Homo sapiens: one gene and its partner. The protein of the gene in region 2 purifies or fractionates together with the protein of the main gene of each other region. This does not show direct contact. Each region holds a gene or a part of one and is shown on either strand. Other genes may lie near its edges.

Region 1 (5,273 bases), on a different chromosome or scaffold from region 2:
GTATGGATTCTGCACAAGGTGTCAGGAGTGGGAGGAGCTGTAGAAGAGGCAGGATTTTGTGGTATCAGAGTATCTTTATTTGCAGCTAGGGTGGGTGGCATCTCTTCTGAGGTGTAAGAAGAGAGAACAGGTGAAGAGAACATTTTAAGAGGAGGAGGGAAGATGGACTTTTCTCCCTGAAGATTTCCGTTTTCTTGCTGTACATGGAACATTCACTTTCCTGGTCTGTCATTTAGTGAAGGGTTGACCGAATCTAATTATACAGGGAGCCCAATTCAACGTATAAAATAAAGTCTTACTTACCAACTTGGGAGTGGAAGAAGTGGCCATTGTTGATTATTGGCTACTCTGCCAAGATGTCATTTAAATTACTTCTGTTTGTGGAGAAAAATACATTAGATGAGATGATCTCCATTCACAAGAGGTCAACAGTCCATTGAGCTTCTCCTTGGGCAAAGTTTGTCCTGGAATGTGGATGAGGAGAAAGTGGTTGGAGGATAAGGAATATATAGAGAGGGGAAAGAAGAGAATAGCACAGGAATGCCTCACCCTGCCAGAAATAGACACACAGCCGCTGCCTACCTGTCCTGTCTTGTCGTTCCCAGGAGCACAGAACAACTAGAACCCGTCATCTTCGTAATGCCAACAGACATGTTTTATAGGTTCATGTAGATAACTAGGTTTTATATAGAGGCTGTTTGAAAAATAGGACATCTGTTTATCTTTCTTAAGGGCAGGAACACTTCAGGAATCTATTTTGGATTGATTAAATCATGTACATGGTGAAGTTTTCTGAAAAAGCCAGATTGTAGTTCCACACTGTCATTGTCAGTAAAGACCATTCTCAGGGTTAAATTGGAACCGGTGGTTGATCATGTGAAGGCAATATTTAAAGTATGTCTTGCTAGAGTTACCAGATTATTGCAGCCCCAGTCAAAGATAACAACATATAAATGGAGTTAGCAGAAGTGATTAAATGACATATACCAAGCCTAAGGCTGCTGCTCAATTTCTAGGGTCACAGCTTCCTCCGTTCATGCTGAAAATCATATGAAGATGGGTTGAAAAGAATTAGTGTACACCCAGAAAATAAACAGGATCTACTCATTAGTATTTCAGTGTAAGGATGAAAGCTTTTAAAAGTACCGACATGGCTATGATAATTGAACTAGAAAAATAGAGAGTTTTTTTTTTCCTGTTGTAAATTTTATTTGGAATGTCTGAAATTTTAGAAATCATTCAACATTCTTTTTAATATACAGTATTTTTAAAAAGCCATTTACGCTGGGTGCGGTGGCTCATGCCTGTAATCCCAGCACTTTGGGAGGCTGAGGTGGGTGGATGACTTGCAGCCAGGAATTCGAGATTAGCCTGGCCGTCTCTACTAAAATACAAAAGTTAGCTGGTCATGGTGGTGCATGCCTGTATTCCTAGCTACTCAGGAGGCTGAGGCATGAGAATCGCTTGAACCCAGAAGGCAGAGGTTGCAGTGAGCCACGATTGCACCGCTGTGCTCCAGTCTAGGTGACAGAACAAGACTGTCTCCAAAACAAACAAACAAACAAAAAAACTCGTTTACAATTCATAATCTCTTGACAACTTCATGATCCTGCTTTGAAAATGTGTTTGCCGGCCAGGCCCAGTGGCTCACAACTGTAATCCCAACATTTTGGGAGGTCCAGGCAGGTCGATCAGTTGAGCTCAGGAGTTCGAGACCAGCCTGGGCAACATGGTGAAACCCCATCTCTACAAAAATACAAAAAATTAGCTGGGCATGGTGGTACGCCCAGGTACCCCGGAGGCGGAGGCGGGAGGATCACTTGAGCCTGGAAGGTTGGTGCTGCAGTGAGCTATGATGGTGCCACTGCTCTCCAGCCTGGGAGATAGAGCAAGACCCTGTCTCGGGGGAAGAAAGATGCTTGCAATTTAGAGATCTCTTAAAAATACTTTAAAAATGTGACACTGAACTGAACTCGAAATTCCAAATTTTAATCATGAGTTAAATTCTACTGACGCTTTCACTATGTTGATAGAAAATGAGAGTGGAGAAGAGCACAGTGAGGGAGAACACAGAGTTCTCAACTTAATAATTTTGTGTTTTTATCATAACATGTGAAATGAAAAGTTTAATAATGTCCTGTTCCATAAAGGCTAGAATGACTACTTGTGCTTGTAAGAATTGTGACCGCTCAGTAATAAATATGCGGCGTTTAACAGAATTGGTGCATTGTGTGATGCTGTGTCTCACCTAATGTCCTGTCTCTGTGGCGTGTGAAACCCTTCGAAGACTTGAGCTTGAGGTCATCTAAACACTTGAATATATGCAGTTAGGTTTTCAGCACAGGGGCTGTGTTCTGTTTTGTGAAGAATGTGCAGTCACAGTAATTGATGGAAGCATTTTACATGAAGGTCTCCCTAATGAAGAAATATGAAGATATTAATATCTGATTTTTACTGCAAAAGTTATTTTTCTGCCGTATTTATAGATTTTCAGAGATCTATGCTAAAGATATTTAAGCTTTAGACTGGGAGCCCTTCTCCTTCAAGGCTAGACTAAGTAAACACTCTTTGTTTTGGCTTCGGAAAATGCATTTTAGAAATCCCAAATTGCAGTGAGTTTAAGTAGTGTGATCACCTTCTAAATATCAAAGTATAGCCCTTGGCTCAGATGGTCTTTGGAGTTTAATTTCCATAAGCAAAGGAGTCTAGGCGATAAGGTCCTTTTTAGATGAAATGGTGTTGGAGTCTCTCCCCGCTTCAGCTTTACTGTTTGTTTTGCATGAGAGCCACAGCCATTGTTTTGATCAGGGTGGTTTTTATAGTGAAACCTGAATTCGTGGTTCTTGGTTACATTACTGCACGGTTAACAATGTCTTCCAAAAAGTGTATTTTTTCATTTAATAATTTATTCTACTCACAGTAGCATTCTGTTAGCCAAGTTTGCAGAGTACATTCAGGTTTTTCAAAGATTTCAGTTAGGAATGTGGTCCACAAGTCCGTCCCAGCTGTATTGTGTCCCGTGAGAACTGCTGAGTAGGATGTGGAAGGTAATTGCATGTTTGGGAATCCAGTTGGGGATGAGTGGGTGGTGGTGGGGGCTGTGGTGGGACTGAGCACCTGGGACAGCATGGGGAGAGAACAGCCAAAGCAGTCTGACGTGTTGGCCATGGTCTGTGTGTCTTAGGGGATGGAACAGTGCCAGAGCCTTCTGGTGGGGGGATGGAGGGGGAAGCAGCGTGGCGCATCAGCAAGTACTTTTTTTTTTGTTTTTGAGACAGAGTCTTGCTCTGTCACCTAGGCTGGAGTGCAGTGGTGCGATCTCAGCTCAGTGCAACCTCCGTCTCCCTTGTTCACGCGATTCTCCTGCCTCTGCCTCCCAAGTAGCTGGGACTACAGGCGCACACCACCGCACCCAGCTACTTTTTGTATTTTTAGTAGAGACAGGGTTTCACCATGTTGGCCAGGATGGTCTCGGTCTCTTGACCTCGTGATCCGCCTGCCTCGGCCTCCCGAAGTGCTGGGATTACAGGCGTGAGCCACCGCGCCCAGCTGGATTAGTGAGTATTTATATTATATAGAACTCCAAGTTCTAATGTTAGGCTTCAGCTGTAGAAAAATCTTTATTTACTCACTGTTTCTTATCACACCACTATGCTGTGGTTCCCTTTCCTCCCTCAGTGGCCGACATCTCCCCTGTCAGGGCCTCCCGTTTGGACCCTTCAAATCTTGGGGTTCTGCTCTTGGATTTTTTTTTTCTTCTGCCTGCTCTCTTCCTTGGTGATCTCATTCAGTTCTGTGGTTTTAAATACCGTCTTTCATATTTAGACAACTCTCAAATTTCTATCTGCCGGCTGGAGTCTCCCACATATCTGCTGCCCACTCACAATCTTTACTTGGATAGCCCGTAGCTGTTCCCATCTTACCCTGTCCAAAACTGACCTCCCGATCTGCTCCCTGAGGCTGCTTCTCCTCCTGTCTCCCTCTCGGTTCCTGGCCCCCTTGTTCTCTACGCTGAGCAGTCTTTGGCATCTTCTCTGGTACTGTTCTCTCCTCCTTTCCCTCCCTCTCCCCACTCCAGCATCAGGCAACCTTGAAATAGATTCACAATCTGCCCCCCACCCCCGTTGTGCCCCAGCCCACACGCGCTCCACCTGTGTTGTGGCTGCAGCCTCTGACTGCTCTGGTCGCCCTCCAGCTTCTGCCCTGGCTGCCCACAGGTTTTTCCATTTTACTGAGACCGTGGCACTCCTCGGTTCAGAATCCGCTGGGGGACTTCTCATTTGATTCATACTAAACTCTAAAGTCCTAAAAATTGTCCTTTATCCATGAGTCCAGACGGATCTTGAGAAAAAAAAAGATTCAGGTTGGATGCAGTGGCTCACACCTGTAATCCTAGCAGTTCGGGAGGCCGAGTTGGGCAGATCGCTTGAGCCTGGGTGTTTGAGACCAGCCTGGGCAACGTGGTGAAACCCCGTCTCTATAAAAAATACAAACATGAGCCAGGCGTGCTGGTGGTTCCTGAGTATGTAAAATTCTGTCAGTCTAAATCTACAGACGCACCTATAGTCCCAGCTACTCAGGAGGCTGAGACGGGGGCCCGGAAAGCTCAAAGCTTCAGTGAGCCGTGATCGCGCCACTGCACTCCAGCCTGGGTGAGAGAGCGAGACTCTGTCTAAAAAAGAAAAAAAATTGAATAAATAAATGGAGGAAGATAGACAAATCAGTTTCTAGAAGAATTATAAATATTTTGAGTAGCGAAACTCTCTGTCTCTTAAGAATGGGCTACATGCAGTGACTTCCTTACCAAGAATACAGTACAGGGAGGGGTGAAAGTAACCTGACTGTGAGGAAACCTGGCAGATACTACCTCAGTCACGTGGTCAGGAGCAGCGTCAACATCGATAAATCGTGTTGATTTTACCCGCTTGCTACGGTGTGGTGGAAACGACTCTACCTCTGTGGCTTTTCTCCCCAAAACAGAACCCCAATCTAATCAGGAGAGAAACGTCAGATTCCAGTTGAGGGACATCCTACAAAATACCTGACTAGTACTTCTGGAAACTGTCCAGATCATTAAAAGCAAGGAAAATCTGAGAAACGTACATTCCAGAGGAGCCTTAGGAGACATGACAGCTAAATGTAAGGTGGTGTCTTGGAAGGGATTCTAGGATGGAGAGAAGGCCTTGGGTAAAATGAGCAAATTTGAGTGAAGTATGGACTGTAGTTGATGATGTGTCAGTACTGGTTTGTTAGTTGTATCTAGTATAATGTAC
Region 2 (5,273 bases):
GTTAAGTATTTTATTATCAAAACTATTTTTTCTAAACTTAGTCTGGCAGGAGTTAACACTCATTTATTTGAATACAAGAGCAGTTACCTTACACCTGATCAGTTTCTTGTTTTCGTGATACTTATTCTTGAAATGTAAAATAACATGAACTTTCTTGATATCAAATCCACAAATATCGGGTCCTACAAAAAAGATTAGCTGCTCTCAATTTCTTTCCATAATGCATCACCGTAGAATAACCAACCCACAACCATTCTTTTTTTTTTTTTGAGACGGAGTCTTGCTGTCACCCAGGCTGGAGTGCAGTGATCTTGGCTCACGGAAACTTCTGCCTCTTGGGTTCAAGCAATTCTCCTGCCTCAGCCTCCTGAGTAGCTGGGACTACAGGCGCATGCCACGATGCCCAGCTAATTTTTGTATTTTTAGTAGAGATGGGGTTTCACCATGCTGGCCAGGCTGGTCTCAAACTCCTGACCTTGTGATCCACCTGCCTCGGCCTCCCAAAGTCCTAGGATTACAGGCTTGAAACACCACGTGCAGTCCATTCTTCTTACATATAATCAGATATTCACACTAAGATATTTATTTATTTATTTGAGACAGAGTCTCACTCTGTCGCCCAGGCTGGAGTGCAGTGGTGGGATCTTGGCTCACTGCAGTCTCCGCCTCCCGGGTTTAAGTGATTCTCCTGCATCAACCTCCCGAGTAGAATAGCTGTGATTACAGGCATGTACCACCAGGCCCAGCTAATTTTTGTGTTTTTAGTAGAGACAGGTTTTGCCATGTTGGCTAGGCTGGTCTCAAACTCCTGACCTCAAGTGATTTGCCTGCCTTGGCCTCCCAAAGTGCTGAGATTATAGGTGTGAGCCACTGCATCTGGTCACATGTGTGAATATCTTATTATTGTTGTTAAAGGACAATGTCCTGGCTTTCCACTCACTTTTGAGTGTGTTCTGAAGCTTATTTAAATATTCAAAGTGGCCTGCTAATCCCAGCACTTTAGGAGGCCAAGGTGGGGAGATGACTTGAGGCCAGTTTGAGACCAGCCTGGCCAACATGGTAAAACCCCGTGTGTACTAAAAATACAAAAATTAGCTGGGAGTGGTGGCGTGTCCCTGTAGTCCCAGGGACCTGTGAGGCTGAGGTGAGGGGATCACTTGAACCCAGGAAGTGGAGGTTGCAGTGAGCTGAGATCGGGCCACTGTACTCCAGCCTGGGTGACCAAGCGAGACTCCGTCTCAATTAAAAAAAAAAAAAAAGTGTGGGCTGGGCATGGTGGCTCACGGCTGTAATCCCAGAACTTTGGGGGGCTGAGGCGGGTGAATCACGAGGTCAGGAGTTCGAGACCAGCCTGACTAACATGGTGAAACCCCACCTCTACTAAAAATACAAAAATTAGCCAGCCATGGTGGCACACGCCTGTAATCCCAGCTATTGGGGAGGCTGAGGCAGGAGAATGGCTTGAACCTGGGAGGCGGAGGTTGCAATGAGCCGAGATTGCACCATTGCACTCCAGCCTGGGTGACAGAGCAAGATTCTATCTCAAAAAAAAAAAAAAAAAAAGGTATTTACACATGTAATGGATGTTCATGAGGAAATGTAGACAGATGGGCTCTGTGTTGCCTGTCTGAGGTTTTATGCATAACTTATGCATAGGAATTCATGCAAATGTCAAGACTGACAATAACTGTGCTTCCCTTGTCCTCCTCCTTAACCCCTCACCCTCAGCAAGCTCCCCTCACACTAATGGCTGGCGCTGACTCATTGCAACAAAGTGTCCCAATAGTAACAGAGTGGGTTTGAGTAAAATGGAACTGTTGAATTAAAAACTGAAATACTAAGAAAAATTTATTTTAATCTTTTTTTGACCCCAAATTATGCTGCTTGGCAATTCAGATGTAGTAGACACATGCTATATAGGGGTCTTTATTTATTTATTTATTTATTTCGGACAGGGTCTTATTCTGTCATCCAGGCTGGAGTGCAGTTGTGTGATCATAGCTTACTGCATCCTCAAACTCCTCGGCTCGGGGGATTCCCCTGCTTCAGCCTCCTGAGTAGCTAGAACCACAGGGGTGCGCCACCTCACTGGGTTAATTTTTAAAATTGTTGTAGAGATGGGGCCAGGCGTGGTGGCTCACGCCTGTAATTCCAGCACTTTGGGAGGCCAAAGTGGGTGGATCACCTGAGGTCAGTAGGTCGAGACCAGCCTGTCCAACATGGTGAAACCCCGTCTCTACAAAAATACAAAAAAATTAGCTGGGCATGGTGGTGGGCACCTGTAACCCCAGCTACTTGGGAGGCTGAGGTAGGAGAATCGCTTGAACCTGGGAGGCAGAGGTTGCAGTGAGCCGGGATCGTGCCGTTGCACTCCAGCCTGGGCGACGAGCGAAGCTGTGTCTCCACAAAAAAAAAAAAAAAAACATTTTGTAGAGATGGGGTCTTGCTATATTGCCCAAGCTGGTCTCAAACTCCGGGGCTCAAGTGATCCTCCCTTGATGTTTCAGATATCTGGGTGTTTTTTAGTTCTATTTTTATTTTTATTTTGTATTTTGTATCATTTATTTATTTATTTATTTGAGACGGATTTTTGCTCTCATTGCCCAGGCTGGAGTGCAATGGTGCAATCTCGGCTAACCATAACCTCTGCCTCCCAGGTTCAGGTGATTCTCCTGCCTCAGCCTCCTGAGTAGCTGGGATTATTACAGGCATGCGCCACCACGCCCAGCTAATTTTCAATTTTTTTTTTTTTTTTTGAGACGGAGTCTCACTCTGTTGCCCAGGCTGGAGTGCAGTGGCGTGATCTCAGCTCACTGCAAGCTCCGCCTCCCAGGTTCAGGCCATTCTCCTGCCTCAGCCTCCCGAGTAGATGGGACTACAGGTGCCCACCACCACACCTGGCTAATTTTTTGTATTTTTAGTAGAGACGGGGTTTCACTGTGTTAGCCAAGATGGTCTCAATCTCCTGACCTCGTGATCTGCCCACCTCGGCCTCCCAAAGTGCTGGGATTACAGGTGTGAGCCACCGCGCCCGGCTCTAATTTTGTATTTTTAATAGAAACGGGGTTTCTCCATGTTGGTCAAGCTGGTCTCGAACTCCCGACCTAAGGTGATGCGCCCGCCTCTGGCTCCCAGAGTGCTGGGATAACAGGCGTGAGCCACCGCACAGAGCCCTAATTTTTATTTTTTGTAGTGACAGGGTCTCACTATGTTGGCCAAGCTGGTCTCGAACTCCTGGACTCAAGTAATCCTCCTGCCTGGCCTCCCAAAAGTGCTGGGATTACAGGCATAAGCCACTGTGCCCAGCTGAGGATGAATATTTTGGAAGTACATTCATTCTTTTTTTGGAGATGGAGTCTCGTTCTGTTACCCAGGCTGGAGTGCAGTGGTGAGATCTCGGCTCACTGCAACCTCCACCTCCCAGGTTCAAGCAATTCTCCTGCCTCAGCCTCCTGAGTACCTGGGACTACAGGCATGTGCCACTATGCCCGGCTAATTTTTTTTGTATTTTTAGTAGAGATAGGGTTTTACCATGTTAGCCAGGCTGGTCTTGAACTCCTGAACTCCAGTGATCTGCCCACCTTGGCCTCCCAAAATGCTGAGATTACAGGTGTGAGCCGCGACACCCGGCCTGAGGTACATTTATTATTAAAGTTTTAAGTTACACTATACTTAGGTCTATTTCCTGTGGCCCAGTGTGGTCCCTTCCCAGTTCTAGCACAAATTTTAATCAAGTACCCCTGTTGTCAGGAGACATTTAATATTTTCTAGAGGTTTGCAGGCTTTTTCTATAAAGGCCAGATGGTAAAATATTTTTGGCTTTGTAAGCCTAATGATCTCTGTCATGACAACTTAACTCTGCCACTGGTACTGGCGAGCAGCCACAGACAACATATAAATGAACAGAGTGAGGCTGCATTCCAGTAAGACTTCATTTATGCACACTGAAATCTAAATTTCATATAATTTTCATGTATCACAAAATATCATCTTGTATTGATTTTTTCCAACCAGTTAAAAACGTAAAAAACATTTTTAGTTCACAGGTTATATAAACACAGGCAGTGGGCCAATTTGGCCCACGGCCAAGGTTTACTGAGTACTGAAGGATTCAAAACACAGGTTGAGGCCAGGCGTGGTGGCTCACGCCTGTAATCCCAGCACTTTGGAAGGCCAAGGTGGGTGGATCACCTGAGGTCAGGAGTTCGATACCTGCCAGGAGTTCGAGACCAGCCTGACCACCATGGTGAAACCCCATCTTGGCCGGGTGCAGTGGCTCACGCCTGTAATCCCAGCACTTTGGGAGGCTGAGGTGGGCGGATCACCTGAGATCGGGAGTTCAAGACCAGCCTGACCAACATGGAGAAACCCCGTCTCTACTAAAAATACAAAAATTAGCTGGGCATGGTGGTGCATGCCGGTAATCCCAGCTACTTGGGAGGCTGAAGCAGGTGAATCCCTTGAACCTGGGAGGAGGAGGTTGCAGTGAGCCGAGATCATGCCATTCCACTCCAGCCTGGGCAACAAGAGCGAAACTCTGTCTCAAAAAAAAAAAAAACCCATCTCTACTAAAATACAAAAAAATTAGCCAGGTATGGTGGCACATGCCTGTAATCCCAGCTACTCAAGAGGCTGAGATAGGAGAATCACTTGAACCCAGGAGGCGGAGATTGCAGTGAGGCGAGATCAAGCCATTGCCATTGCACTCCAGCCTGGTTCACAAGAGTGAAAACTCGGGCTCGAAACAAAAACAAAAACAAAAACAAAAACAAAAACAAAAACAAACAAACAAAAAAACTACACAGGTTGAGCATCCCAAATCAAAAAATCGCAAATCTGAAGTGTTCCAAAACCCAAAACTTTTAGAATCAACATGATGCTCAAAGGAAATGCTCATCAGAGCATTGTGGATTTCAGATTTTTCAGATTAGCGTTGTTCAACCAGTAAGGATAATGCAAATAATCCAAAATCCAAAAAAAATTTCCAAAATCCAAAACACTCTGGTCCCAAACATTTCAGATAAGGTATCCTTACCCTGCATGAGGGCAACATTAATGGTGAATAAATAACTTCTTCAGGAACACAACAGACTGGTACAGTTGCCTTTTTATATTAATTAGGCTTAATAGTGCTTGGATCCGATACACTCAATACTACTACAAACCTTGGATCCGATATACTCAATACTACTACCTTCACTACATTAGCAAAGTCTTAGTCTAAAGATCCTGTGAAGTGGGAGGGTTTTCAAAGTCACTAGAAGTGGTTGTGT

What was found. Proteins that work in one complex are often made in the same cells at the same time.
Region 1: the proteins of CALR3 (region 2) and FAT1 purify together in Homo sapiens (affinity purification with mass spectrometry, with the first as the bait; one large-scale study listed by BioGRID). This does not show direct contact.

What each region holds. Positions count from the first base shown.
Region 1 is NC_000004.12:186,713,076-186,718,348, reverse strand, and holds part of FAT1 (protocadherin Fat 1 isoform 1 precursor), read left to right. Parts: intron 1-5,273.
Region 2 is NC_000019.10:16,485,076-16,490,348, forward strand, and holds part of CALR3 (calreticulin-3 precursor), read right to left. Parts: intron 183-5,273; coding exon 88-182; intron 1-87. UniProt on the Homo sapiens protein: During spermatogenesis, may act as a lectin-independent chaperone for specific client proteins such as ADAM3. Required for sperm fertility. CALR3 capacity for calcium-binding may be absent or much lower than that of CALR.